7 linked regions of the Homo sapiens genome follow. The protein of the gene in region 1 purifies or fractionates together with the protein of each later gene. This does not show direct contact. Each region holds a gene or a part of one and is shown in the gene's direction. Other genes may lie near its edges.

The links.
Region 2: the proteins of CAMK1D (region 1) and DCPS fractionate together in Homo sapiens (co-fractionation; one large-scale study listed by BioGRID). This does not show direct contact.
Region 3: the proteins of CAMK1D (region 1) and QPCTL purify together in Homo sapiens (affinity purification with mass spectrometry; 3 studies listed by BioGRID and IntAct, with this or other methods). This does not show direct contact.
Region 4: the proteins of CAMK1D (region 1) and NUCB2 fractionate together in Homo sapiens (co-fractionation; one large-scale study listed by BioGRID). This does not show direct contact.
Region 5: the proteins of CAMK1D (region 1) and KLHL22 purify together in Homo sapiens (co-immunoprecipitation; one large-scale study listed by IntAct). This does not show direct contact.
Region 6: the proteins of CAMK1D (region 1) and NAE1 fractionate together in Homo sapiens (co-fractionation; one large-scale study listed by BioGRID). This does not show direct contact.
Region 7: the proteins of CAMK1D (region 1) and ITM2B purify together in Homo sapiens (co-immunoprecipitation; one large-scale study listed by IntAct). This does not show direct contact.

What each region holds. Positions count from the first base shown.
Region 1 is NC_000010.11:12,821,387-12,825,120, forward strand, and holds part of CAMK1D (calcium/calmodulin-dependent protein kinase type 1D), read left to right. Parts: intron 1-3,078; coding exon 3,079-3,166; intron 3,167-3,734. UniProt on the Homo sapiens protein: Calcium/calmodulin-dependent protein kinase that operates in the calcium-triggered CaMKK-CaMK1 signaling cascade and, upon calcium influx, activates CREB-dependent gene transcription, regulates calcium-mediated granulocyte function and respiratory burst and promotes basal dendritic growth of hippocampal neurons.
Region 2 is NC_000011.10:126,302,512-126,307,015, forward strand, and holds the start of DCPS (m7GpppX diphosphatase), read left to right. Parts: upstream 1-1,548; 5' UTR 1,549-1,569; coding exon 1,570-1,770; coding exon of another isoform or gene 1,771-1,791; exon of another isoform or gene 1,792-1,811; intron 1,812-4,058; coding exon 4,059-4,233; intron 4,234-4,504. UniProt on the Homo sapiens protein: Decapping scavenger enzyme that catalyzes the cleavage of a residual cap structure following the degradation of mRNAs by the 3'->5' exosome-mediated mRNA decay pathway.
Region 3 is NC_000019.10:45,695,534-45,699,267, forward strand, and holds part of QPCTL (glutaminyl-peptide cyclotransferase-like protein), read left to right. Parts: coding exon 1-185; intron 186-3,009; coding exon of another isoform or gene 3,010-3,013; coding exon 3,014-3,166; intron 3,167-3,248; coding exon of another isoform or gene 3,249-3,254; exon of another isoform or gene 3,255-3,267; coding exon 3,268-3,367; intron 3,368-3,734. UniProt on the Homo sapiens protein: Responsible for the biosynthesis of pyroglutamyl peptides.
Region 4 is NC_000011.10:17,275,606-17,279,772, forward strand, and holds the start of NUCB2 (nucleobindin-2 isoform 1 preproprotein), read left to right. Parts: upstream 1-1,133; 5' UTR 1,134-1,223; exon of another isoform or gene 1,224-1,247; intron 1,248-1,417; exon of another isoform or gene 1,418-1,692; intron 1,693-4,167. UniProt on the Homo sapiens protein: Calcium-binding protein which may have a role in calcium homeostasis. Acts as a non-receptor guanine nucleotide exchange factor which binds to and activates guanine nucleotide-binding protein (G-protein) alpha subunit GNAI3.
Region 5 is NC_000022.11:20,464,569-20,468,302, reverse strand, and holds part of KLHL22 (kelch-like protein 22), read left to right. Parts: intron 1-2,726; coding exon 2,727-3,445; intron 3,446-3,734. UniProt on the Homo sapiens protein: Substrate-specific adapter of a BCR (BTB-CUL3-RBX1) E3 ubiquitin ligase complex required for chromosome alignment and localization of PLK1 at kinetochores.
Region 6 is NC_000016.10:66,820,786-66,824,519, reverse strand, and holds part of NAE1 (NEDD8-activating enzyme E1 regulatory subunit), read left to right. Parts: intron 1-919; coding exon 920-991; intron 992-1,213; coding exon 1,214-1,293; intron 1,294-2,960; coding exon 2,961-3,070; intron 3,071-3,734. UniProt on the Homo sapiens protein: Regulatory subunit of the dimeric UBA3-NAE1 E1 enzyme. E1 activates NEDD8 by first adenylating its C-terminal glycine residue with ATP, thereafter linking this residue to the side chain of the catalytic cysteine, yielding a NEDD8-UBA3 thioester and free AMP.
Region 7 is NC_000013.11:48,260,534-48,264,267, forward strand, and holds part of ITM2B (integral membrane protein 2B), read left to right. Parts: intron 1-605; coding exon 606-691; 3' UTR 692-3,734. UniProt on the Homo sapiens protein: Plays a regulatory role in the processing of the amyloid-beta A4 precursor protein (APP) and acts as an inhibitor of the amyloid-beta peptide aggregation and fibrils deposition. Plays a role in the induction of neurite outgrowth.

The sequences.
Region 1 (3,734 bases):
CCCATCTTCTGGGCTCCAGACACCAGAGCTCCGGTTGGCTGTAGGAATTGGGAGGTGGCCCAGGACTGGCAAGTGCTGTCCCGGGTACACACCAGGCACCACCAGGCCCATCTTGAGCAGGTGGCTAGAAAAGCGCAGACTCAGAGCCAGGAAGGTAGAAGAGACCACACACAAAACACAAAACCACGAAAGGCAGGGGAGACTAGGCTGTGGTCCGTGAGTGGTGGATAGTGAGACAGGCTGTAAAAGGTGTGATTACGTAAATGCTATCTGCATTGTTCTTGTAGGTATTAAAACCAGAAAGCTGGCCGGGTGTGGTGGCTCATGCCTGTAATCCCAGCACTTTGGGAGGCCAAGGCAGGCTGATCGCTGGAGGTCAGGAGTTCAAGACCAGCCTGGCCAATATGGTGAAACCCCATCTCTATTAAAAACACAAAAATGAGCCTGGCATGGTGGTGCATGCCTGTAATCCCAGCTACTCAAGAGGCTGAGGCAGGAGAATCACTTGAACCCAAAGGCGGAGGTTGCAGTGAGTCGAGATCGCACCACTGCCCTCCAGCCTGGGCGACAGAGCAAGACTCTGTCTCAAAAAAAAAAGAAAACAGAAAAGCAAGGGAGACATGAATGAAATGTGTTCACCCATAGCGTTGCCTAAGTGTGTGTATATGGATTGATAAAGCAATCCTGCTGTATCAGAAGCATTGACCACTAGGATCCCTTCCAATGTTTAGACTCCATGCCTCTGGTTTTGTTGGCGAAGCGTGCTGAAGTTAGTGACACTGAGCATCAGCGCTGTCCGGATGTTACTATTGCAAGTTTCCTAGCTTATCATGAGCATGGGTCACCGTTGTCATTGCGGCTTGTACTTGGGGAGGGCCACGGTGCACTATTGTGGCCTGACATGGCTGCACTGCTGCAGGAAGACCGTGTAACACAGAGCCTGGGGGCCACCTTCTGCCCAGCTGGACTCCCCACTGCTGCACAGCCCAGGACTGTGGGAAATGAGCATGAAGCATTCCTAAAATAATTAGAAGCTTCTGTTTTCTTACATCTGGGCCCATGTGAACCCACAGATATAGCATGGGACACAGAGTATAGGCAGCAGGCCACGGGCCGTGGGGTCTGAGACCACACTGCGGACAAGCAGGTGGACCCCGAGGCCCAGAGTCTCCCCGACCCCAGCACCAGCCTGTTTGCTTTGGAGCCTGGCTCTGCCCTGCAGCAGTGCTCAGCCTGAGGAATTCCAGACTCCCCACCACTTTGGCCTTGTCGTTTCTAAGAAAGAGCTGGCCGCTGCAAGCTTGGACTGGCATCCTTTTCTGAGGATGTAGCTTTTCAACAGGGTCCAGGAGGAATCACTCCCTTGGGCTCTCCGGGGAAAAAAGCTTAATAAAGATGTCTCTCATTCTCTCATCCTCTTTGTCTTGTTACTCTTGTTTCAGATGTAGTTGCCCATTCAAATACTCTATTTCTGTTTCAGGAATATGTGTCTGGGAAGGAAGGCAGTTGACAGTTGTTGGAAATGAAAACCTAGTTTGCTTGAGATATTTCCTGCACGTCCCCTTGGCTGTGTGTTTGCAGCCCTGCTGGGAAAAGGTGGTGGGGGAGAGTTGTTTTGAGCTGGGAACATCAGCCTGGATTCTAAACTTAGGCCAGCCTGGCCCCAATTTTATATCGACTCTGTCCACCCTGTTTGCAGTCCTGATGGGAAAGAAAGTCTGGCTGGTATTCTCTCTTGTCTGAATATGCCTGAGCCGTGTTCCTTTCATCTCCTGAAGTAGTTGGAAGTGATGGTTGCCGTGTCTGGGCTGTTTAATGTCCAGGGCAGTCAGTGTCTCAGGGGTGAGAGGTTTTCTCCCTTACCAGTTACCTTCCAGCCCATAACGTTGGTTTCTGACTCTGATCCCCTTAACTTCTGCAAGATTCATGAAACTCTTTCTTAGCCATCAGATAGTAACCCAGAATTGAATAGTTTGGTGCTAGAGGGAAGGGAAGAGGGAAGGATCAAAGCCCAGGAAAGACTGGGAGCAGAGCACAGAGGCCCAGGGGGAAAAGGCCAAGTGGATGCCTGTAGGGAGAGGAGGAGGCTGTGATCGAGAAGGGCATGCATGAGGGAAGGAAGAGCTGGGAGACTGCCAGGTAATTCTCAGCCTGGATATTGTGAGCCGAGAGAGAGGAGGAGGCTGTAAGACCCAAGAAAGAGACAGCAGAGGGAGGAAAGAGTGGGATGGAGGGTACTGTCAGGAGAGAAGGCCAGGAGCAAACCTAAGTTCTTCCCTGCTCATGGCAGGCTCAGGAATCAGCTAGAGTTAAAGCTTACCCGGGGCTGCCAAGGGCTCAGGTGAATGCAGGGTGGACGCCGTCCTTGAAGTTCTAAGAATTTCAAGGAGATGCAAGGGTGGAGGATGTACCAGGCGGGGTTGAGTGGAGCTGGGAATCCTGTCACCCAGCATAGAGTGGGTGGGGGGCATGGGCTCACAGGTGTTGCCAAGCAGAATGTGGCAGGCTCAGCTCTGCTGAGATGAAGCTGAGAGCCCACGGGTGTGAGTGGTGCCCTGGGAGCAGCGCCCCTGGGGAAGACAGAGAGGAGGGACCTCGGGTCTGAGGAAGCTGGGAAGCAAGGCCGGGAAGGGGTCTGGTGCTGAGACCAGTTGGGGAACAAGTGTGAGACCTTGGAGGTGGCGCATGGTGGCTCAAAAGCTTGTGTGGAGGCAGAGGGGATGAGGGGGAGGGAGAAGGATGGGAGACATTGTCACTGTGGATTCTGATGTTGCAGGAATTGGGGTCAAAGAAGGAAAAAATGAGAGCCGGGGAGTAGTCAACCAGGAGGGCGCTGGCGGGTCTGGGGAGGGTGCGGAGTGTAGAAGCTGGAATAGGACTTTGTGGTGAGGGGTTAGAATGGGTGGGTTTAGGGAATGGCCAGGTGATGACATCAGCAGCCTGGAAGGGCAGCGGCCAGCCACCCTGTCCACGACTGAGCCTCGGCTCTCCTGAGGCTAGGTAAGACTCCCCTTTATGGGACGCAGTGTCAGGGCCCAGAAGAAGCACTTCAGAGCAGCACCTTTGCCTCTGTTTCAGGATCGCTGGTGACACAGCCCTCAACAAAAACATCCACGAGTCCGTCAGCGCCCAGATCCGGAAAAACTTTGCCAAGAGCAAATGGAGAGTAAGTGTGGAGTATATGAAATTCCCCGTGGATTAACCCCCTCGTGACACTGGCCCTCCAATCTGAGCATTTCTGAAATCCCCAGAACCTCACCTGAATAATTTTGCTAATTTTAACTGCAAGTAATAAAGACTCAGAGGGAATATTATGGTGTAAGAGGGATGGAGTGTGCAATTCAACACTTCCCCTCTGTGATCAAAGACAGCAATAGTGCCAGCTCTTCCTCATCTGCTGTTTCTTAACCAACATCACCCTTGTCTTTCTTCACCTTGCTAGAACTTTGAATAGCTGACTTTTATTAAAGCGATATGGAGGGGGAAAAAACAGGAAATCTGAGTTGTACTCATCAATGTTTCCTGATAAAAGTTTGACAGATTTAAACCATGGAGGTTTTGTGATCATCTGTTGATTACCTGACTTCCTAATCTCTTGATTACCTGACCTCCCCTCCGTGTTCCAATCAGCAATGGCAATTCAGAGCTAGCTATTTTGCCATGAGGGCCAATGGTGAAAGATGAGACGGAAACAAAATTAATTTTGCTGGCCTGCTGTATTCATAGGACATGCT
Region 2 (4,504 bases), on another chromosome or scaffold:
GCCACCACGCCTGGCTAATTTTTTTGTATCTTTAGTAGAGACGGAGTTTCACCACGTTAGCCAGGATGGTCTCGATCTCCTGACCTCGTGATCCGCCCACCTCGGCCTCCCAAAGTGCTGGGATTACAGGCATGAGCCACCGCGCCTGGCCTAAAGTAGTCTTTTATCCAACTCCTAATCTATATTTCTGGTAGAAGTAATCCAAAAATCAAACTAACACATGGTACACTTTGTTATTGACCAAAAACTGACTGTAAATTGCATCTTGTTGCTAACGTTGAGAATGGCAAAAACTGTCCCACACCCATGAGATCTGTCTGAAAACCTAAACTCAAATCACTGGCAAAATAAATGTGTGGCTGACTGAAGCGATGTAAGTACCAACTCTTTTTTTTTTTCTTTGAGACGTAGTCTCGCTCTGTCGCCAGGGTGGAGTGCAGTGGTGCGATCTCGGCTCACTACAATACTCCGCCCGCGTTCAAGCGATTTTCCTGCCTCAGCCTCCCGAGTAGCTGGGACTACAGGCGCGGGCCACCACGCCCGGGTAATTTTTGTATTTTTAGTAGAGACGGGGTTTCACCATGTTGGCCAGGATGGTCTCGGTATCTTAACCTCGTGATCCGTCCACCTCGACCTCTCGAAGTGCTGGAATTACAGGCGTGAGCCACCGCGCCTGTCCGTAAGTACCAACTCTTCACAAAATTTAGATCTGTTAAATAACACCAGTGAAAAACGGGCTAACCAGAAACAATGGTCACCAAAGAAACCCTCAACAGCAGAAGTTACAAGTAATAATTTTATATGGCAAAAAAAAAAAAAAAAAAAAAAAAAAAGAGAAACGAAACCCTGGGAGACGAATCATACTGCAAATCATATCCCTGGGTAGCAGGGCAGAAATACAGGTAAACAAAATAGAGAGGAGGGGGATGCCTCTAGCCCGGAAATAAGTGGGTGGTGGAGATGGTTCTTCTGGCCATATTCGTTTACCTTTTTTGTCAGCAGAAAAGTACTGAGTCTACAAAGTAAAAAACTGACCACGATGAAAATTTCTGCAAAGTAATTAAAATGGGAGAAAAATGGAAATGGCTTAAATACTCGGTATAAAAAATCGACCAAGGAATCAAATGGGCTCACGGATTTGCGTCAGAAACGTTGCTTCCCCGATAATTGGTCAACGTCGGTGTAACTATGATTAAAATGTCAGTATTCAAACAAGGGCTCCAACACTACCGTGGCCCAAGGGCGTCTTCGGCTCCCACCCCGGGGCGTGGGCCTGGGGGTCCCTCTTCACTGCGCAGCCACCTCTAGCCCGCCGCTTTCGGGACTCTCAGCCTTCTTTTCCCTTCCCTGAGGGCCGGCCGGCACCACAACGGGGCCAAAGGCAGTAACTCGGTTGAAAGGCGCGCCCTGGGACAGGTCAGCGGGCTCCGCCATGCGCGGCACGCATCCCGCAGGAGCGGGTGCCAGAGCAGGGTAGGCCGGGAGTTAGCAGCCCAGCCAGGCCGCTGGACTCGGGCTAGGGGCGGGGCCAGCGCAGGGGGCGCAGGCGCACACCGCCTCCGCGGCAGCATGGCGGACGCAGCTCCTCAACTAGGCAAGAGGAAGCGCGAATTGGACGTGGAGGAGGCCCACGCCGCCAGCACAGAGGAAAAGGAGGCAGGAGTTGGAAATGGTACCTGTGCTCCTGTCCGCTTACCGTTCTCCGGCTTCAGACTGCAGAAGGTGCTGAGGGAGTCTGCGCGGGACAAAATCATTTTCCTACACGGGAAGGTACCAGGAGGCAACCCTGAGGTGGGATGCGGGAAGCAGTGAACCAATCATCGCCTCGGAGGCAGATTTTTTTTTTTCGGATCTCGGCTGGAAAATACCAATCATTATCACTCCGGGGAGGCGGGAGTGCGCCACTAGAATGCATAGAGGGGCGGTGAAAGGCGGCAAGATTGCCTTTGAAATTAAGGCAATGAACACATCTAGCTCTAATTTTTCTAATGTCTCCACTAGAAATATCTACTGGGAGAGTGCATTGCAGATTAAAGATCACATGTTACATTCCCCAAGCCATTCATCATCCATTTATGTATACAGGGACTAGGAACCCAGTCAATGTTAGATGTCTCGCTCATCCCTGTCCGTGGAAACGACATGAGACTGTAGGAGATGTGATCTCTGCCTTACGCGACTTCAGCCGTAACAGGAGAACAATATATTATAATTGTTAATTCAGTTCTACGCACGCACTTTCATGCATGCCAGACACTAAACTAGGTACTGGGGATGTGGAGACGAAAGTTACCATCCCTGATCTTCAGGACTACGGAATATTTCTGGCGAGACAGATACACACAGCTTGCTCCAATACCAACGTGCTCAGCAATCTGGCAGGGGCTGAGGAGAGATGGAGACCATTCCAGGAACTAGTGAGGAGGCCTAGCCAGAGCAGATATGGGGGTTCCCCAGAAACTAGTGAGGAGGCCTAGCCAGGGCAGATAAGGGGGTTCCCTAGAACTACTAGCAGGAACTCTCACCTTTGGGAGGATCAGGGAACCTTGGCCTAGGCTTCCATGCCTCTGTGTGTATCTGGTTTTTAAATTTTTATTTATTTATTTATTTATTTTTGAGACGGAGTCTCTCCTCTCTGTCACCCAGGCTAGAGTGCAGTGATGTGATCTCGGCTCACTGCAACCTCTGCCTCCCGAGTTCAAGCTATTCTACCTGCCTCAGCCTGCCCAATAGCTGGGATTACAGGCCCCCGCCACCATGCCCAGCTAATTTTTGTATTTTTAGTAGAGATGGGGGTTTCACCATGTTGGCCAGGCTGGTCTCGAACTCCTGACCTCAGGTGATCCGCCTGCCTCTGCCTCCCAAAGTGCTGGGATTACAGGCGTGAGCCACCGCACCCGCCTTTTTTTTTTTTTTTTTTTTTTTTGAGATGGAGTTTCACTCTTCTTGTCCAGGCTGGAGTGCAATGGCACTATCTTGGCTCACTGCAACCTCCACTTTCTGGATTCAAGTGATTCTCCTGCCTCAGCCTCCCAAGTAGCTGGGATTACAGGCATCTGCCACCATGCCCAGCTAATTTTCGTATTTTTAGTAGAGACAGGGTTTCACCATGTTGGCCAGGCTGGTCTTGAACTCCTGACCTCAGGTGATCCACCCACCTCTGCCTCCCAAAGTGCTGGGATTATAGGCATGAGCGACTGCGCTGGGCCTTGTTTTTTGTTGTTTTTTGTTTGTTTGTTTGTTTGTTTTTGTTTCTTGTTTTCTGTTTTTTTGTATGCGATTCTGTCTGGTTCTCTCAGCCCAGCTGTCTTCAGTGTGCAGCACCTGTTGAAGGTGTTAGTCATGAGAGCCTTCGAGCTAGGAGTCACTTGGGAGACCTAGGTTCTGGTTTCTGTTTCAATGCTGACTGTTCATGTGACCTTGGGCAAGTCACTCAAGGTCTGTTTTTCATCTTCTGAAATGGGGAGAACTTGACAGAGGTCTTGTAAGCCTAAAATGGAAGACAACTGAGAAGCCTTGTATTCTGGGGAAGAAAGGTGTGAGAACTGCCACAAGGATTTGGGTGGAGATGCCTTCTCTGGCTGGGCATGGTGGCTCACACCTGTAATCCCAGCACTTTGGGAGGCTGAGGCAGGCATATCATTTGAGATCGGGAGTTCAAGACCAGCCTGGCCAACATGGTGAAACCCCATCTCTACTAAAAATACAAAAATTAGCCAGATGTGGTGGCATGCGCCTGTAATCCCAGCTACTCAGGAGGCTGTGGCGGGAGAATTGTTTGAGCCCAGGAGGTGGAGGTTGCAGTGAGCCAAGATCGCGCCATTGCACTCCAATCCGGGCAACAGAGCAACACTCCATCTCAAAAAAAAAAAGATGCCTTCTCTGAGAAAAGAAATGTGAAATGTGAGTGCCATTGGCTAGACTTCCCCAGAGGGAAGACTTCAGGGAAGGAAATCCCAAGTATTGGGAATTCAAAGGCCCTGGGAGCTTCTGTCTTGCTCTCCAGAGTCTCATCGTGGTTCTGCCCTTGAGCCCACTGATGATGCCTCTGCCCACAGGTGAATGAGGCCTCTGGGGATGGGGATGGAGAGGATGCCGTTGTGATCCTGGAGAAGACGCCATTTCAGGTGGAACAGGTGGCTCAGCTCCTGACGGGCAGCCCTGAGCTCCAGTTGCAGTTCTCCAATGATATCTACAGCACCTATCACTTGTTCCCTCCAAGACAACTGAATGGTGAGCAAGAGGTGGCCAGGGTGGCTGTATGGAGGGAGAATGGGATGGTGGGAAATTAGGTGGTATGGTGACCAGACTCTCTATACCCGATTTGCATATTCTAGTACAATAGGGAGATTACTTCCCTAGGGGACATTTGGCCATCGGTGAAGACATTTTTGATTGTCAGAATCGGGGGTGGTGGTGGGGTGTTGCTTCTGGCATCTAGTGGGTGGAGATCAAGAATGCTGCTAAACACCTTACAATGTACAGGACAGGCTCCCACAGCAAA
Region 3 (3,734 bases), on another chromosome or scaffold:
ATGTGGTGGCCACACTGGACCCAAGGGCTGCCCGTCACCTCACCCTTGCCTGCCATTATGACTCGAAGCTCTTCCCACCCGGATCGACCCCCTTTGTAGGGGCCACGGATTCGGCTGTGCCCTGTGCCCTGCTGCTGGAGCTGGCCCAAGCACTTGACCTGGAGCTGAGCAGGGCCAAAAAACAGGTGAGGAGCAGGAGTCGGGGAGGGTAGTGGGCTACCTCCACCTTTTCCCAAGCCCCCACCCTCCCTTGCCTGGACATTTGTCATCCCTCTCGTCTTCCCACTCTACTCCACGCACAGAGCCACAGGGATCTTTTTTTTTTTTTTGAGACGGAGTTTCGCTCTTGTTCCCCAGGATGGAGTGCACATGGCGAGATCTTGGCTCCCCGCAACCTCTGCCTACTGGGTTCAAGCAATTCTCCTCCCAACCTCAGGTGATCTGCCCACCTCGGCCTCTCAAAGTGCTGGGATTACAGGCGTGAGCCACCGCGCCTGGTCATCACAGGGATCTTTTTACCTTCTAGATGTCAGATTCTCTTTCCTCTCCCCCAAACCCTCCCAGGGCTCCCGCCTCATTCCAGCCATAATCCAGAGTCCTTATATTGGCCCACGAGCTGTGCCCTGTTACCTCTCCAGCCTCATCTCCCACCCCTCACCTCTTGCTCACTCTGCTGTAGCCACCCCCACCTCCTCTGGGTTCCTCAAACCCGCAGAGCTTGCTCCCACCTCAGGGCATCTGCACTTGCTGTTTGCTTTGGATAGAATGTGCTTTTCTGGCCAGGCTCCGTGGCTCACACTTGGAATCCCAGCACTTTGGGAGGTTGAGGTGGGTGGATCACAAGGTCAGGAGTTCAAGACCAGCCTGGCCAACATGATGAAACCCCATCTCTACCAAAAACACAAAAATTAGCCAGGCTTGGTGGTGCACACCTGTAACCCCAGCTACTCGGGAGGCTGAAGCAGAGAATTGCTTGAACCCGGGAGGCGGAGGTTGCAGTGAGCCAAAGTTGCACCACTGCACTCCAGCCTGGGCAACAGAGCGAGACTCCATCTCAAAAAAAAAAAAAAATTATCTGGGAGTAGTGGCATGCTACTTGGGAGGCTGAGAGGGGAGGATGGCTTGAGTCTAGGAGTTTGAGACTGCAGTGAGCCATGATCGTGCCACTGTATTCTAGCCTGGGTGACAGAGACCTTGTCTCTTAAAAAAAAAAAAAAGAATATGCTTTTCATAGATATCTTCCTGGCTGGCTCCCACTCTTCACTCAGGTGTCCACTCCAATGTCACCCCTTCAAAGAGGCCTTCCCGGCCGGGCGTGGTAACTCGCACCTGTAATCCCAGCACTTTGGGAGGCCGAGGCAGGCAGATCATTTGAGGTCAGAAGTTCGAGCCCAGCTTGTCCAACAGGGAAACCTCATCTCTACTAAAAATACAAAAATTAGCTGGGTATGGTGGTACATACCTGTAATCCTACTACTTGGGAGGTTGAGACAGGAGGATCACTTGAAACTGAGAGGCGGAGGTTGCAGTGAGCCGAGATCGCACCACTGCACTCCAGCCTGGATGACAGAGCGAGATTCTGTCTCAAAACAAACAGAAAAGAAAAACACAGGCCAGGTGCGGTGGCTCACACCTGTAATCCCAGCACTTTGGGAGGCCAAGGCAGGTGGATCGTGAGGTCAGGAGATTGAGACCATCCTGGCTAACACAGTGAAACCCCGTCTCTACTAAAAATACAAAAAGTTAGCTGGGCGTGGTGGCGGGCGCCTGTAGTCCCAGCTACTTGGGAGGCTGAGGCAGGAGAATGGCGTGAACTCGGGAGGCAGAGTTTGCAGTGAGCCGAGATCGCGCCACTGTACGCCAGCCTGGGCGATACAGCGAGACTCCGTCTCAAAAAAAAAAAAAAGAAAGAAAAAAAAGAAAAGAAAAGAAAAACACAGATTTAATCATGCTCCTGCCCTGCTTAACCCCTCTCTGTGCCTCCCCAGTGTCCCTATAACAAAGCCCACACTCCTTGGCCCTTGCTAAACCTTCCGTACCCCTCTCAAACCTCTGGGACCCCTTCCCTGGCCATAGCCTTGCCCTGTGTTGCTCCCTTGGCTGGGAATACTCTTCCTCCTGCTCCATTTTGCCAGGCCAGTTCCTACCCATTCTCATGGCAAACATCCCTTCCCAAAAGACCCAACGCCCTCTCCAGGCCAGGTCATCCCCCAGCCTCCTTCCTATGCCCTCTCAGGACTCTATAGTTCTTAGAAGCATTTGTCTCAACTGCATTTCACTGTTTGTATAATTATTCATTTGTGGATCTATCTGGTTCACCAAACTGAGCTTGAGGAATAATAATCAGAGATAACCCTTATTTAGTTATATGCCAGGCACTGTTCTAAGACCTGGATTCAAACCTTACCCTTTGAAAAGAACTGTTATTGCCGGGCGCGGTGGCTCACATCTGTAATCCCAGCACTTTGGGAGGCTGAGGTAGGTGGATCATTTGAGGTCAGGAGTTCGAGACCAGCCTGGCCAACATGGTGAAAGCTTGTCTCTACTAAAAATACAAAAATTAGCCAGGCATGATAGCGGGAACCTGTGGTCACAGCTGTATGGGAGGCTGAGGCAGGAGAATCTCTTGAACCTGGGAGGTAGGGGGTGGAGGTTGCAGTGAGTCAAGATTGCATCATTCCACTCCAGCCTGGGTGACAGAGCAAGATTTATTCTAAAAAAAACAAAAAACAAAAAAAAAACAAAAAACCTCTTATTAACCCCATTTATAGATGAAGAAACTGATCCTTCCAGAAGTTAGTAACTTCCCCATGCCTGCTTTGTTATGAAGCAGCCAAGTACGGATTTGATCCCAGACAACTGACTCGGAATCTGTGCTCTTGGCTACCACGTTCTATGAGTGAGGACACCTTATGTGTTCTCTTAAGCATGCAAGCGGGCAAGAAGTGTGGGTATGTTGAGGCTGAGGGCTAGTCCTGAGCTGGCTCTGGCCACCCCCCTGCTGCTCCCACAGGCAGCCCCGGTGACCCTGCAACTGCTCTTCTTGGATGGTGAAGAGGCGCTGAAGGAGTGGGGACCCAAGGACTCCCTTTACGGTTCCCGGCACCTGGCCCAGCTCATGGAGTCTATACCTCACAGCCCCGGCCCCACCAGGATCCAGGCTATTGTAAGACCAGGGTCCCCTGGCTTCTGGCGAGGGAGGGAGCAGGTTAAGCAGGGCTGGCGTCATCCTGCACGGGCCCCTCCAGTCCTAGCCTTTCTCCTTAGGAGCTCTTTATGCTTCTTGATCTCCTGGGAGCCCCCAATCCCACCTTCTACAGCCACTTCCCTCGCACGGTCCGCTGGTTCCATCGGCTGAGGAGCATTGGTAAGGGTGAATGCGGAGGTGGGCCCCAGCCCACCTGGGGTATGGGGTACAGGGCGGTGGGCTGGGGTAGGACAGGCACCTACACTCTAAAGGCTCATCCACCAGTCTGGGCCACATAGGGAGACCCCATCTTTTTTTTTTTTTTTTTTTTGAGATGGAGTCTCGCTCTGTCACTGAGACTGGAGTGCAGTGGCATGATCTTGGCTCACTGCAACCTCCACCTCCCAGGTTCAAGCCATTCTCCTGCCTCAGCCTCCCGAGTAGCTGGGACTACAGGCGCATGCCACCATGCCCAGCTAATTTTTGTATTTTAGTAGAGACAGAGTTTCACTATGTTGGCCAAGCTGGTCTTGAACTCCTGACCTCG
Region 4 (4,167 bases), on another chromosome or scaffold:
TTTTGAGACAGGGTCTCACTCTGTGGCACAATGATCATGGTTCACTGCAGCCTCGGCCTTCTGAGCTCAAGTGATCCTCCCGCCTCTGCCTCCGCCTCCTGAGTAGCTGGGACTACAGATGTGCGACACAGCACCTGGCAAATTTTTAAGTATTTTCTTCAGACTGAAACATCATTGTGTTAAAGATAAAAAAGTAAAAAATATTCTTGTAGAGATAGGATCTCACTGTTGTCCAGATTGGTCTCAAATTTTTGAGCTCAAGCCATCCTCCTGCCTTGGCCTCCCAAAGTGCTGGCATTACAGGGTGAGTCACCATGCCTAGTCTGTACTGTTTTCCTGGCAATGTTATCTCATTCAATCTTCGTGAATAACCCTAAGGTAGATATGATACCAATTTTTCAGGTGAAAAAAACTAATCGGCAGGATGAAACTTCGTAAACAGCCTGTGGCTCCAAAAGCTTCTGGAAGGCTCAAGCTACCCATGTGCATCTTTGAGCCTCAGTTTCCCCATCTTTAAAATGAGGGGTTTGGAATAGATGTCTGTTCTCTGGGGCAGGATGCAGAGGAAAGAGCTGTCTGCGAATGGGCAAGAGAGAAGGTGGGTAAATACAGTTAAACCACAGTGACCGAGGGCCCAGCACAACGGGGGTGGGTGCGGTTACAAATGCCGTTAAGATTCCCGCCAAGGCGGAGGACGGGGGTGTCAGAGCCGAGCGAGGCCTGTGGGCGAGAATAGGCCTGACAGCCATTCTCCGACCTGCGTGGGCGCTGCAGGCGCAGGCCAGAGGCCAAGGGAGAGGCGATCCCTGGGGCTCTGCCCGGGTCTCAGGACGGCACCTCACCCGCCCGAGTCCTGCTCCACAGGATTCTCCGGGTAAGCTAGGGAAGGAAGAGGCGCGGCCTCCTGAGCCCGCATCTCAGAGCGCCACGTCCCTCCTGGCTCAGCCTCCCACCAGGCTCCACAGCTTCGGCCCTCCTCACCGCCCGCCTCCAGGCTCCCCGGCGCGGCCTTGTCCCTGCTCCCGCCAATCGGCGTCGTCAGCAATCGCGAACCGGACCAATCAGCGGCCGCAGAGTGTGGGAACTGTCGCCATGGCAGCCAGGAGGCGGGCGCGCGCGGCGGGAGGAGGGGCAGAGCGGAGCGGTGGGCCGGGGGCTGGAGGACAGGTTTGTGCGCTGGACGCAAGCACCAGGCGCAGCCTCGCTCGCCGAGACCCGGCCAGGTAAGGCCGGTGGCCGCGCGGTAGGTGCGGAGCAGCGCGGCGGGAGATTAGGGGTGGGGGAGTCCGGAGATAAGGCTCCGGTCTTCGCCTGCCTTGCCAGAGCAGAGAGGATGGTGGGGGCCGTGCTGTGGGCGGGGCACCGGCGGGGAGGGGGCTCCCAGCGCGAGCCGGAGGCGCTGGGTTCCCTCTGCTCCACTCGCAGCTGGGCACCCGAGCTTTCTTCGGGGTCGAGGAGGGTGGCTGGCTCTTGGCGGGGAGCAGGAGAGGGTAGGTGCCAAACCGAGACCCTGGCGGGGTCCCTTCGGGTTTGGGCAGGTCGATGGGCAAGGGGGTGCCCACTAGTGAGGAGGGACACCCACCAATTCCAGGCGATGCTCCCCTGTGCCGCTCAGCAAAGCTAGGCCCGGGGATCCTGCTCTTCTCCGGTCTGGTTAAGCCAGCAACCTCTGACACTTAGGAGAAAGTTAGTGTAAGTCGTGATATGCTTTTCACTTAAGTGACAAATTAGGTACGAGATGAACCCTTTTGGTTTTAGGAGATGAGAAACAGTATTTCCTTGTTGCACCTGCTAAGTGGCAACTCAGTGAGCAAATATGGTTATTGTGGTTGGTGTTTGCAACGGTCTTAGATGACAGTTATTTTACAGTATCAAATGGCTGGGAGAGGGAGGGAAAGAAGGAGAGAGAGAGAGAGAATATGAGGGAATGAGAATGAACGGGAACCATTATGATTTTTGAGAGACAGAACCTCTTGAAATTCTATGTCTGCTAAACTTCTAAATTGAATAATGTACATTTTATGCAATTGAATAAGCTAGTGCTACCATTTAAGCCTGCTACTAAGGCTCTGTTAAATCCGTGGACGAATATGAACACTAAAAGATATTACCTTGGTTTAAAAATAGGGGAGGTTAAATGCAAATATTTCTGATAGTGAATTTTGTTTGAGGGAGATTGTGGACTTTCCCTATGGGAAAGTTAAAGAATTGATGAGATAGATGCTTTAAGGAATGTTTTTGTTTTTTGAAACTTGAATAAGTTCAACAAATGTTGAACAAATATTTCAACAAATCTTCTTCAGCTAATAGGGTCAAAAATTAAAATTCTGGAAATTTAGAATTAGAAATGAAATCTCAAATAATGTCACTCTCCTAATTAGGATGAACATGGAAACTTCTATTTCTCATCGTGGTCTTCAAGCTTTCCATGATCTCATCTACCTTTGTAGTAGGGGGTCAAATTTTTTTTTTAACTAGACAATTTTAGAAACTTAAAGGAGGCAAAAATTTATTTCTGTCTCCGTGTGTTTACTCATGCTCTTCTCTATCCAAATTTTACCCATCTTTTTTTTTTTTTTTTTTTTTTTGAGATGGAGTCTCACTCTGTCACCCAGGCTGGAGTGCAATGGCCCGATCTCAGCTCACTGCAGCCTCCGCCTCCCGGGTTCAAGGGATTCTCCTACCTCAGCCCATCGAGTAGCTGGGATTACAGGGACCCACCACCACAGCCAGCTAATTTTTTGTATTTTTATTAGAGACGAAGTTTCACCATGTTGGCCAGGCTGGTCTCGAACTCCTGACCTCAGGTGATCCACTTGCCTTGGCCTCCCAAAGTGCTGAGATTACAGGTGTGAGCCACCGTGCCTGGACGACCCATGTTCTAAGAGTCGAATCTGTCTATGTTGTGTTTACCTTTCTTTGCTCTCCCAAGGTACATATTGTTCATATCACGTATTTTGTATATATTCTTTCAGCATGCTTTTTGCCAAGTTGGTTTGCGCTCTGTGAATAACAGTTGAGATAAAATGCACAATTAAGACAATTAAGGTACTTTTCAAGACACAACTAATTATGGGCACTAATATCAATAACATCAATTCAGATGTCTTTTTTGTTTTGGGATATGTTATTAATCTCTGAACACATACTAAACTAATTTTGCATTACTTAGAATAATATGTAAATTACTTTCCACTTTCTAAGGACCCTTTTGAAGGCTGGGTTCTACAAAATACCCTTTTGAGTACTGGGTAGCTGGCAGAAGCAAGTGCAGGATTTAAAAATGTATTGAAAATAATCCTTTAGGCCGGGCATGGTGGCTAATGCCTGTAATCCCAGCACTTTGGGAGGCTGAGGCGGGTGGATCACTTGAGTCCAGGAGTTCAAGACCAGCCTGGCCAACATGGTGAAACCCCGTCTTTACTAAAAATACAAAAATTAGCCAGACGTAGTGGCGGGCATCTGTAATCTCAACTACTCAGGAGGCTGGAGCAGGGGAATCGCTTGAACCTGGAGGCGGAGGTTGCAGTGAGCCGAGATCGCGCTATTGCACTCCAGCCTGGGCAACTAGAGTGAAACTACGTCTCAAAAACAAAACAAAAAACAGGCTACTAACAATTTCAAATAATTTATTCAAGGAAAAACTTCAATCACTTTCATTATTTCCAATCAAAAATTTTTTTTACAACCATGATGTGGTGAAAAGTATACTTAGTTAGAATTTCATGGCCAGATTCCAGTACGGGCTCTGCCAAACGAACTTGGCCAAGTCAGTTAACTTCCTTCTGTATTTATAACCTTTTATAAAAGTAGGGCTGAATTAGATTACAGTAGTCCTCCTTTATCCTAGAGGGATATGTTCCAAGGGTCCCAATGGATGCCTGAAACTACAGGTAGTACCAACCCTTATATACGCTATGTTTTTTGCTATACATACATAATAATAAAATGAATAACAGTAATACACTGAAATGAAAGTTATATGAATGTGATCTTTCAAAATATCTTGTTTTACCTCAGGTAATTGAAACTGCAGAAAGTGAAATCGCAGATTAGGGAGGACTACTGTACCTCCAAGATTATTTCTGATCTTAGAATTCTCTGATTCTAAAATCCTAAAGCAGCCTAATAGAAGTTCAGATAGTAGTTACTTGATTTTATTTTTGG
Region 5 (3,734 bases), on another chromosome or scaffold:
AGCTGCTGCTGCCCAGGCTTCTTCAGGGCTGTTTGTGCTCACATTCTGCCCAAAACTTGGTCTTCAGGACCCTGGCCCATGACAAACCAGAATTTTAGGAAAACCTAGTAGTTTGGGAAGAAGTGGCAAAGCAGAAGACTGGCAAAAAGGGAAAAAAGAAGGTCAAGTGAAGCTGGTCAGGGCCTAGCAAAGCACCATGGGGATACCTCATGTAGGGCACATACCTGCCTGACATTTGGTAGGTCTCATCCAGCTCTTAGCATGTCACCTTGCAAGCAATATTAGATGTCTTTTGAATTTTAAAAAAGTTATAGTTAGTGTTTATTGATAAGCTTTAAATACCTTGGCCGGGCGCCGTGGCTCACGCCTGTAATCCCAGCACTTTGGGAGGCCTAGGCGGGCAGATCACGAGGTCAGGAGATCGAGACCATCCTGGCTAACACGATGAAACCCCGTCTCTACTAAAAATACAAAAAATTAGCCGGGCGTGGTGGCGGGCGTCTGTTGTCCCAGCTACTTGGGAGGCTGAGGTGGGAGAATGGCGTGAACCCGGGAGGCGGAGCTTGCAGTGAGCCGAGATCGTGCCACTGCACTCCAGCCTGGGCAACAGAGTGAGACCCCATCTCAAAATAATAAATAAATAAATACATAAATACCAGCAGAATTATTCCATGTGTAATGGTTAATTTATTGATGATCCTGGATAAGCCAGGTATTCCCATTTTTAGAGAAACTGATTTATTGCATTGAACACATGGCTGGAGTTGGTAGCAAGGGGGTTCCCACAAGAGGGGACCCCACAGCATCCTGAAATGGAGCCGTTTTGGGATTCCAAAGAAAGAAGCATCAAACACCAGGGTGATCTGGCCAGAGCGTTTATTAGGGGAACTTATGTATAGAGTGATGTAGCATGTCCTCAAGACAGACAAGGGAAAAGAGAGGCTTTACCCAGGCTTGCCCACAGAGTGGGTTAGTGTATGGAGTTTCTATGAGGGTTTAAGGAATTTGTCTCAGGGCCAGAACCAGTTTTTCCTTCAGTGTTTTGGGTAACAACCTTGATGCCTTTATCAGTGCCTGGGAATGTTCAAGGGCCTGGTTTGGGTTCAAGCCTGCTGGGAGAACCTGCAGCTGTCTGGGTCACAGAGAGGTCAAGGTACTCGTCATTTTCAATCTGAACATGGAAAGAAAGGAGGTGGGCACTGGGGGGCCCCACTGAAACTCTAAAATCCTGCTTTCCTAAATAATTTATCAACACCTGGTTTGTTCTCCCAGGCAGTTTTCCCTAGGGCCCTTCCCTTTGTCTCCTATTCTCCCAAGATTTGGTTGTCTGTTCACAGGGTGGCCTTTAACAGCCTGCTGGTTGTGGCCTTGTTCCCACCTCCCTCCAGTGTCATTCTCTCTCTTGCCGTCCTTTCAAACCACTAGTGCTTCCCCATGGCTGGGAAGGGTTGATATGGCCACCTGGGAGCCCCTGCACTTACTGGAGTCAAGTGGGTCTTGACCCAGCTGGGAACCTCAAGAACCCTGAGTCAGGGATCACTTGAGCCCAGAAGCTTGAGACTTCGGTGAGCTATGATCTTGCCATGGCACTGCAGCCTGGGCAACAGAGCAAGACCCTGTCTCAAATTTTAAAAAGAAAAAAGAAAAATAATTCTAAATCAGGTTCCTGGGTGGGTATTGGTTAGGTGTCTGAGAGGCTCTGAGCACTTCTAGGGAACCAGGGTGGATGTTCTGGCGGGGGAAAAAGCCAGGTTTGTTTCTGGTCCCAGCGCTTTTGGAGAGGCAGGCTCTTCCAGAGAATCCTAGGGTAGGGATGGGGATGGTCTTAGGTCCTTTCCAAACCACAGATATATGACACAGTGACCATTTGTGCTGCTTCCTGCTTTTCTGGAGAGCCAGTACTTCTTTTTTTTTTTTTTTTTTTTTTTTTAGACGGAGTCTCGCTCTGTCACCCAGGTTGGAGTGCAATGGCGCGATCTCGGCTCACTGCAACCTCCGCCTCCTGGGTTCCAGCGATTCTCCTGCCTCAGCCTCCTGAGTAGCTGGGATTACAGGCGCGCGCCACCACGCCCAGCTAATTTTTGTATTTCTAGTAGAGACGGTGTTTCACCATGTTGGTCAGGCTGGTCTCAAACTCCTGACCTCGTGATACACCCACCTTGTCCTCCCAAAGTGCTGGGATTATAGGCATGAGCCACCGCACCCGGCCGAGCCAGTACTTTTGATCTAAGAGGGAACTGACATATATCAAGGGTCCACTCCTATGTGCTCTCTCATTTTCATCATGTTCCTCTTCACTTTAATGATCCCCGTTTTATAGATGAGGAGACTGAGGCTTAGAGAGGTTAAAAACATTCTGTACGGGAGGCTGAGGCAGGAGAATCATTTCAACCCGGGAGGGGGAGGTGTTAGTGAGCCGAGATTCTGCCACTGCACTCCATTCTGGGCAACAAGAGCGAAACTTTGTCTCAAAGAAAAGCAAAACAAAACCAAAAAAAAACATGCTGTATATCCTGTCACCCAGTATGTTTCCAAACCAGGACTTAAACCTAGTCTGCAGTAAGCCCCAGTCTCCAGTGTGTCAGAAAAGGTCGGGGACAATTAAGGAGGACTTCCCTTCTGCTTTGCCTGGCCCACAACAGCCCGTATTTCTGCCATCATTCTCTCTCCCACCCCCAGATGCTGTTCACCAGCCCAGGCTTGAATGGGTGTCATTCTCTCTGCAGATCCCAGAAATTATCCATTTCTGCTGTGATTTCCTCATGTCCTGGGTGGACGAAGAGAACATTCTCGATGTCTACCGGCTGGCAGAGCTGTTTGACTTGAGCCGCCTGACTGAGCAACTGGACACCTATATCCTCAAAAACTTTGTGGCCTTCTCTCGGACTGACAAGTACCGCCAGCTTCCATTGGAGAAGGTCTACTCCCTCCTCAGCAGCAATCGCCTGGAGGTCTCCTGCGAGACCGAGGTATATGAGGGGGCCCTTCTCTACCATTATAGCCTGGAGCAGGTGCAGGCTGACCAGATCTCGCTGCACGAGCCCCCAAAGCTCCTTGAGACAGTGCGGTTTCCGCTGATGGAAGCTGAGGTCCTGCAGCGGCTGCATGACAAGCTGGACCCCAGCCCTTTGAGGGACACAGTGGCCAGCGCCCTCATGTACCACCGGAACGAGAGCCTACAGCCCAGCCTGCAGAGCCCGCAAACGGAGCTGCGGTCGGACTTCCAGTGCGTTGTGGGCTTCGGGGGCATTCACTCCACGCCGTCCACTGTCCTCAGCGACCAGGCCAAGTATCTAAACCCCTTACTGGGAGAGTGGAAGCACTTCACTGCCTCCCTGGCCCCCCGCATGTCCAACCAGGGCATCGCGGTGCTCAACAACTTCGTATACTTGATTGGAGGGGACAACAATGTCCAAGGATTTCGAGCAGAGTCCCGATGCTGGAGGTAGGACAGGGTGCTAGCTGGTCCCTTTGTCTTCAGGTGATGAGAGGGTGTGGAAGTCATGGGCTGAGAGAGCTGGTCAGGTTCCCCCCAGCCTTTCACATGAGCATCACTTGCCATTGTGGAATGAAGTCTAGGTGAATTCAGAGAAGGTGGACAGCAGTGAGATAAGAGAAGGGGACATGTGGATCGCCTTCTTTCCTGCATGTCCCCTACTCCTCAGAAACCCACTTACCCTGGACCCTTGCTCAGCCTCTTTGGGGTAGGCTAGGTTGCGAGTGCATTGTGCAGG
Region 6 (3,734 bases), on another chromosome or scaffold:
CCCAGGTTCACGCCGTTCTCCTCCCTCAGTCTTCCGAGTAGCTGAGACTACAGGCGCCCACCACCACGCCTGGCTAATTTTTTGTATTTTTAGTAGAGATGGGATTTCACCGTGTTAGCCAGGATGGTCTCGATCTCCTGACCTTGTGATCCACCCGCTTCAGCCTCCCAAAGTGCTGAGATTACAGGCATGAGCCACCACGCCCAGCCTAAAAAATCTTACAAAACCATGTTAGTCAACTTAGTGAAATGACTTTTAGCTTAGTGATTAACCACTCTTGTACAGGATTATAGATGTGGGTGGTTAGAGTGAGTCTGAACTTGATCCAGGATATCCCTGCCTGCTACCCAGAGTTTTTTGGTCATTTGCCTAATCAAAAAAGTAGAGTACAAGTAATGTCATTTGAGAACTCTGGATGATGATGGTTTTGCTCTGTTTTAAGTAATATTCTGTTGAGTCTTAAACACTAGGAGAAGCAGAATTGGCTGGGAGCAGTGGCTCACGCCTGTAATCTCAGCACTTTGGGAGGTCAAGGCAGGAGGATTGCTTGAGACCAGGAGTTCAAGACCAGCCTGGGCAACATGTCAAGACCCTGTCTCTACAAAATATTTTTTTAAAAAATTAGCTGGGCATGGTAGCACATGCCTGTAGTCCCACCTACTTGGGAGGCTGAGGCAGGAAGATTGCTTAAGCCTAGGAGTTCAAGGCTGCAGTGAGCTATGATCAGGCCACTATGCTACAAACTGGGCAACAGAGCAAAAGCCTGTCTCTAAAAAGAAAAAAGAAGGGAAACAGAGTTGTCATACTTATGCATGAAATTTGGATAGTTTTACAGTATGTTTGCCTGTTCCATAAATTGGGGGATTATATTGTGACCAAGTTTTTTCTAATTCAAGTTAAATGCTTTGTTTTTAAAAAGAACCGAGCTGAAGCTGCCATGGAATTCTTACAAGAATTAAATAGCGATGTCTCTGGAAGTTTTGTGGAAGAGGTATATATGTACACACATTATTATGTCTGTGCTGAAATACAATTTTTTAAATAATTCAAAGCCCCAGAAATTTAGAATTTTGAATCTTTGTGTCATTTATGATTAGTTGAATTGGAATTGTTGCCTCATTTGTTGTAAAATAGCTTAACTGTCTCTGCCATGTTTAATATGATTGTGAAATTGGTTTTTTTTGTTTGTTTTTTTCTTTGCTGTCCTGTTTAGAGTCCAGAAAACCTTCTAGACAATGATCCCTCATTTTTCTGTAGGTTTACTGTTGTAGTTGCAACTCAGCTTCCTGAAAGGTAAATTTTTATGTTAATATGTTTTTATTTTAATCTTATTAGATTTGCATTGTTTTATTTTCTTTGCACAGTCTATGATGATATGGTTTTAAAAATTGTTAAATTCTATAGAAACTTTAAATATGAAACTTTTTTTTTTTTTTTTTTTTTGAGCTTGAGCTCAAATTCCTGAGCTCAAGCAATGCACCCTCCTCGGCCTCCCAAAGTGTTGGGATTACAGGTGTGAGCCAACGTGCCTGGTCAAGAGTTTCAGATTTATGGCTGGGCACGGTGGCTCATGCCTGTAATCCCAGCACTTTGGGAGGCCGAGGCAGGTGGATCACGAGGTCAGGAGATTGAGACCATCCTGGCCAACATGGTGAAATCCCATCTCTACTAAAAATACAAAAATTAGCTGGGCGTGGTGGCTCACGCCTATAGTCCCAGCTACTCGGGAAGCTGAGACAAGAGAATCGCTTGAATCAGGGAGGTGGAGGTTGCAGTGAGCCAAAGATCGTGCCACTACACTCCAGCCCTTGTGACAGAGTTAGACTCTGTCTCAAAAAAAAAAAATAAATAAATAAATAAATAAATAAAAGAAATTCTTAGAAATCTTCCAGCATTGAAAAGATGAGGAAGAGAAAAATACTGAAACTTTTTTTTTTATTATTATTCTTTAGACAGAGTCTTGCTCTGTTGCTCAGGCTGGAGTGCAGTGGCACAATCTTAGCTCACTGCAACCTCTGCCTCCTGGGTTCAGGTAACTCTCGTGCCTCAGTCTCCCAAATAGCTGGGATTATAGGCATGTGCCACCGTGCCCGGCTAATTTTTGTATTTGTAGTAGAGACGGGGTTTCACCATGTTGGCCAGGCTGATCTCAAACTCCTGGCCCCAAGTCATCTGCCTGCCTCAGCCACCCAAAGTCCTGGGATTACAGTTGTGGAGCCACCAAGCCTAACCTTAGATGTGAAACTTTTGGAATATATTTAGAGCAGTTAAACCGAACATTGTTTTTTTGTTGTTGTTGTTTTTGTTCTTTGTTTGTTTTAGTGATTAAAAACTAGTTAGAATTGATTATTGAAGGCTGGGTGCAGTGACTCATGCCTGTAATTCCAGCAGAACCAGGCTGAGACAGGTTCAGATCACTTGAGCACAGGAGTTTAAGACCACCTGGGCAACATGGCAAAACCTTGTGTCTACAAAAACTACAAAATTTAGCCAGATGGTGTGCCTGCTTGTGGTCCCAGCTACTCAGGAGGCTGGGATGGGAGAATCACTTGAGCCTGGGAGGTCGAGGCTGCAGTGAGCCATGATCATGCCACTGCACTCCAGCCTGGGCAACAGAGAATTGGTTATTGGAATTGTTAGGGGTGTATTTGTGGGTTTTATATTTTTTCTCTATCATGGAAATGTTTAGAATTATCTTTCTTTAACGTTTCTCCTTAATATGACAGACTAAAGTTTCACATCCCTCTTGTCCAAAGATGTACTTTCTTTGAGACTGCAGCCTGTGGAAATGCTTGCTTTTCAGTGTGTTCTTGACCTGCTTATGTAAATGCAGTTATGTACCTTTGCATCTATTATTTAGTAAGAAAGTTGCTGTAAGACATTTTCATGTTTTGCATGTTTTCATGTTTGGCATATTTCCATTTGCTTATGTTCATATTTTGCTTTTTTTTTTTAAACAGCACTTCACTACGCTTAGCAGATGTCCTCTGGAATTCCCAGATTCCTCTTTTGATCTGTAGGACATATGGACTAGTTGGTTATATGAGGATCATTATAAAAGAACATCCAGGTAAAATTGTTGAGCATATGGGCTTACTATTGGTTGCTTTAGCTATAATTTTAGAAACTTGACAATTTAGAAAGTCAGTTTTAAATTACAAAGTAAATTTGTAGCAGCACATCTCTAGTTGCAGATTCAAAGTGGCAATCAGATTCAATAGGCTGCAATCTACTCTTTATGTAGCATTATAGAAGGATACAAAGCATGATATACCACAGGCACAGCTTCTTCATCTTATTAGGAGATCCAGCAACTATGCAAGTACCCAGCTTCTTTTGCCCCCTAACCCACATTGGGCATGTATGGCTGTGGAGAGCTAAGGAATGTGGATCACTCTGACCCATGAAGTTACACCACCTTTCCCCACTCCAGTCTTTTTTTTGTTTTTTAAGACAGAGTTTCGCTCTTGTTGCCCAGGCTGGAGTACAATGGCACAATCTTGGCTCACTGCAACCTCCACCTCCCGGGTTCAACTGATTCTCCTGCCTCAGCCTCCCAAGTATCTGGGATTACAGGCACCCGCCACCATGCCCAGCTAATTTTTTTTTTTTTTTTTTTGAGACGGAGTCTCTCTCTTTTGCTCAGGCTGGACTGCAGTGGCGCGATCTTGGCTCACTGCTACCTCCACCTCCCGGGTTCACGCCATTCTCCTGCCTCAGCCTCCCGAGTAGCT
Region 7 (3,734 bases), on another chromosome or scaffold:
TAGTCCTCAGTATGTATCATTCCCATCTTTATGTCAGTGAGTTCCCAGTGTTTAGCTCCTATTTATAAGTGAGAGCATTGTAAGGTAGGTATTTGGTTTTCTGTTTCTGTGTTAATTCATTTATGATAATGGCCTCCAGCTGTATCCATACTGCTGCAAAGGACATGATTTCTTTTTTATTGCTGTGTTGATTTCTTACATTTTAAAATTCTCTTGGTTCATAATTTTTTTTAAAGTCAGCCTTACACGTGCCATGAAATTTACCCTTTTTAGTGTGCAACTCTGAGTTTCCACAAAGATACACAAGGTCTTGCAAGCACCACCATAGTCAAGATACAGAACATTTTCAATACCTTCAAGTTCATGAATTTGTAAGCAGTCTGGATAGCATTATTAATGTTGCTGTGATCTGTCAAGATATTAATACTTGGTTCAGAAAAGGGAGAAAAATTACTTTTCTTCAGTGTAAACATTCAAACTGTAGAAGTTTTTGTGGAATATAGAGTGAAATACTTCTATATGTCTAAATAATAACTATAAAAATGATGTGAATATTTATTATTAAAGAATCAAAATTTTAAAAAACTTTTTTCCCTCTCCAACAGGTATTCAGAAACGTGAAGCCAGCAATTGTTTCGCAATTCGGCATTTTGAAAACAAATTTGCCGTGGAAACTTTAATTTGTTCTTGAACAGTCAAGAAAAACATTATTGAGGAAAATTAATATCACAGCATAACCCCACCCTTTACATTTTGTGCAGTGATTATTTTTTAAAGTCTTCTTTCATGTAAGTAGCAAACAGGGCTTTACTATCTTTTCATCTCATTAATTCAATTAAAACCATTACCTTAAAATTTTTTTCTTTCGAAGTGTGGTGTCTTTTATATTTGAATTAGTAACTGTATGAAGTCATAGATAATAGTACATGTCACCTTAGGTAGTAGGAAGAATTACAATTTCTTTAAATCATTTATCTGGATTTTTATGTTTTATTAGCATTTTCAAGAAGACGGATTATCTAGAGAATAATCATATATATGCATACGTAAAAATGGACCACAGTGACTTATTTGTAGTTGTTAGTTGCCCTGCTACCTAGTTTGTTAGTGCATTTGAGCACACATTTTAATTTTCCTCTAATTAAAATGTGCAGTATTTTCAGTGTCAAATATATTTAACTATTTAGAGAATGATTTCCACCTTTATGTTTTAATATCCTAGGCATCTGCTGTAATAATATTTTAGAAAATGTTTGGAATTTAAGAAATAACTTGTGTTACTAATTTGTATAACCCATATCTGTGCAATGGAATATAAATATCACAAAGTTGTTTAACTAGACTGCGTGTTGTTTTTCCCGTATAATAAAACCAAAGAATAGTTTGGTTCTTCAAATCTTAAGAGAATCCACATAAAAGAAGAAACTATTTTTTAAAAATTCACTTCTATATATACAATGAGTAAAATCACAGATTTTTTCTTTAAATAAAAATAAGTCATTTTAATAACTAAACCAGATTCTTTGTGGATACTATTAAAGTAACATTTAAGCCTCAACCTTGAATGATGTTGTTTAATATAAAATGCTTTTATTTTTGATGGAAAGGCAATCAAAGCCTAAAGTTTCCAAGGAACGTAAAATAACTGTGCTTCTCTGAGAATGCCCGCCTCACAAGTGGAACATTTTGAGTTAATAATGATGATTTTTATGTTTCTAAGGTTGCTTCCTCTCTGAAATAATTCAGAATCCACCCCCATTTAATAAAATACCTATGATTCATTTCACCTCAAGTTCCTAAGACAAAAAATTTCAATTCTGACTTTAGGAGGTCAGAGTTTTTAAAGCTTCCAACTCTTAAAGGATTTAGTCTAGAAACCAATTCTAATTCAAAAGGATATTATTTACTCATGGCTTTTCATTTCATTTCAGTAATATTGTCAGAACTTTAAGTCAGTGAGTTGGGTATTCAGGAATTAACAATTTTAGAAGACAATATGTTTCAATAAAATGAGAATTGGTTTTTCCTACTTTCCAGGCTCTAAAATTACATGAATTTTCAGGGAGCTGTGAACATTTAGGAGCACATTATTCATTCAGCATCTTTTATATGCCCAACATATGATATTGTGTTGAAGATATATCTGCAAAGAAGAAAAAAAGCCACTGCCGTCGTGGAGACTCACAATCTAGGAAAAGAGAGGGACAGCAAACAACTCATTACAATACATTGGGATCAGTAGTGTGAGGGAGAAAAACAGGTCTAGGTTCTTTGGAAAACATTTAGGAGAGTCAATGAGACTTTCAGAATGTGAAGTGCATGGGATTAGGTCATGGAAGAAGACCATGTATGTCATCTTGAGGACTTCATTCTGTAGACCATGGGCCACTATTGAAGTTTTGCATTTTGGAAGGAGCTTATTAGTTTGTTTTCCTGTTGATTATAGTAGTAATGCAGTATCAGGGTAGCTGAACTGCAATAATAATCCCAACATCTCACTGGCTTCATGCAGTAGGAATATGCTTTCATCACAGTCCAGTATGGCAGGCAACCTCCAGACTCCCAGGGACCCAAACTTACACTTTACTAAATGTAATTCTTTCATTTGAATTTTTAAAGGTTTTTGTATAATCATCTTAGTAAAACATTTGATAATTCTTCACAACATTTGCAATCATTGATTTGGCCAGATTGGTCTAACATGGTACCCATGATTTTACTTCATTTCCAGTACTATTCTGATAATTTCCTTTAGAGTCAATTGAGTAGAGAGTACCCCTCTCACCTAAGCTTAGTCATGTCCCAGGAATTTTGGAACTCCAACTGAGATTTCAGGCTCATTATTCATTCTAGGGCTGAATGAATAATGTGCCCTTTGAACCCTTGTGCCATGCTGGAAACTGTGGTCTTGGTGTGGCATGGAAAAACCAGAGGGTGAGGGATGTGGATGAGAAGATGACAGAGAATCAGACATGCAGAGAGGACTGCCAGGTCTCCCAGTGGGTTCCAGGGAGACTCAGCTATCCTTCCCTCTTCTTGAGTTCTGTCTTAGTCCATTCGGGCTACTATAACAAAATACCATAGACTGAGTGGCTTTAAACAACAGAAGCTTGTTTCTCACAGTTCCAGAAGCTGGAAAGTTCAAGATCAAGTCACCTGCAGATTCAGTGTCTGATGAGGTCCTCCTTCCTCACAGAAAGCTCTCTTCTCTCTGTGACCTTATATCACAGATGACTCTGGGTTCCTCTTACAAGGACACTAGTTCCATTCATGGGGGTTCCACTCTCATGACCTAACACCTCTCAAAGGCCCCATTTCCTAATACTGTCACCTTGGGGGTAAGGATTTCAACATGAATTCTGGGGGGACACAAACATTCAAACCATAGCAAGTTCCATAATGCACCCCATCATATGTGTGTGTGTGTGTATTTATTTATTTATCTAAGATAGCTCTAGTTTGCTGCTTTGCAACACATTCTGCCCCTATTGCATTGGTTTAAAAAAAAAGTACAGAAGTCAAGATGAGACTATATAAATCTTGACAAGTTGTTGGCCGTGATTGCTCTTTTGTGATGCAGGAGTGAGAATCTGGAGAATCTGGCTTAAGAGGTGGCTGAGAATTAAAATAATAGGCATGAAAATGCTTCATACAGCTCTGTACAGTTGTTGACAGTGCCTTTTTTGAAACCTATCACTGCTATATGTTAGCAAGCAAACACTGATCTTGTTTTG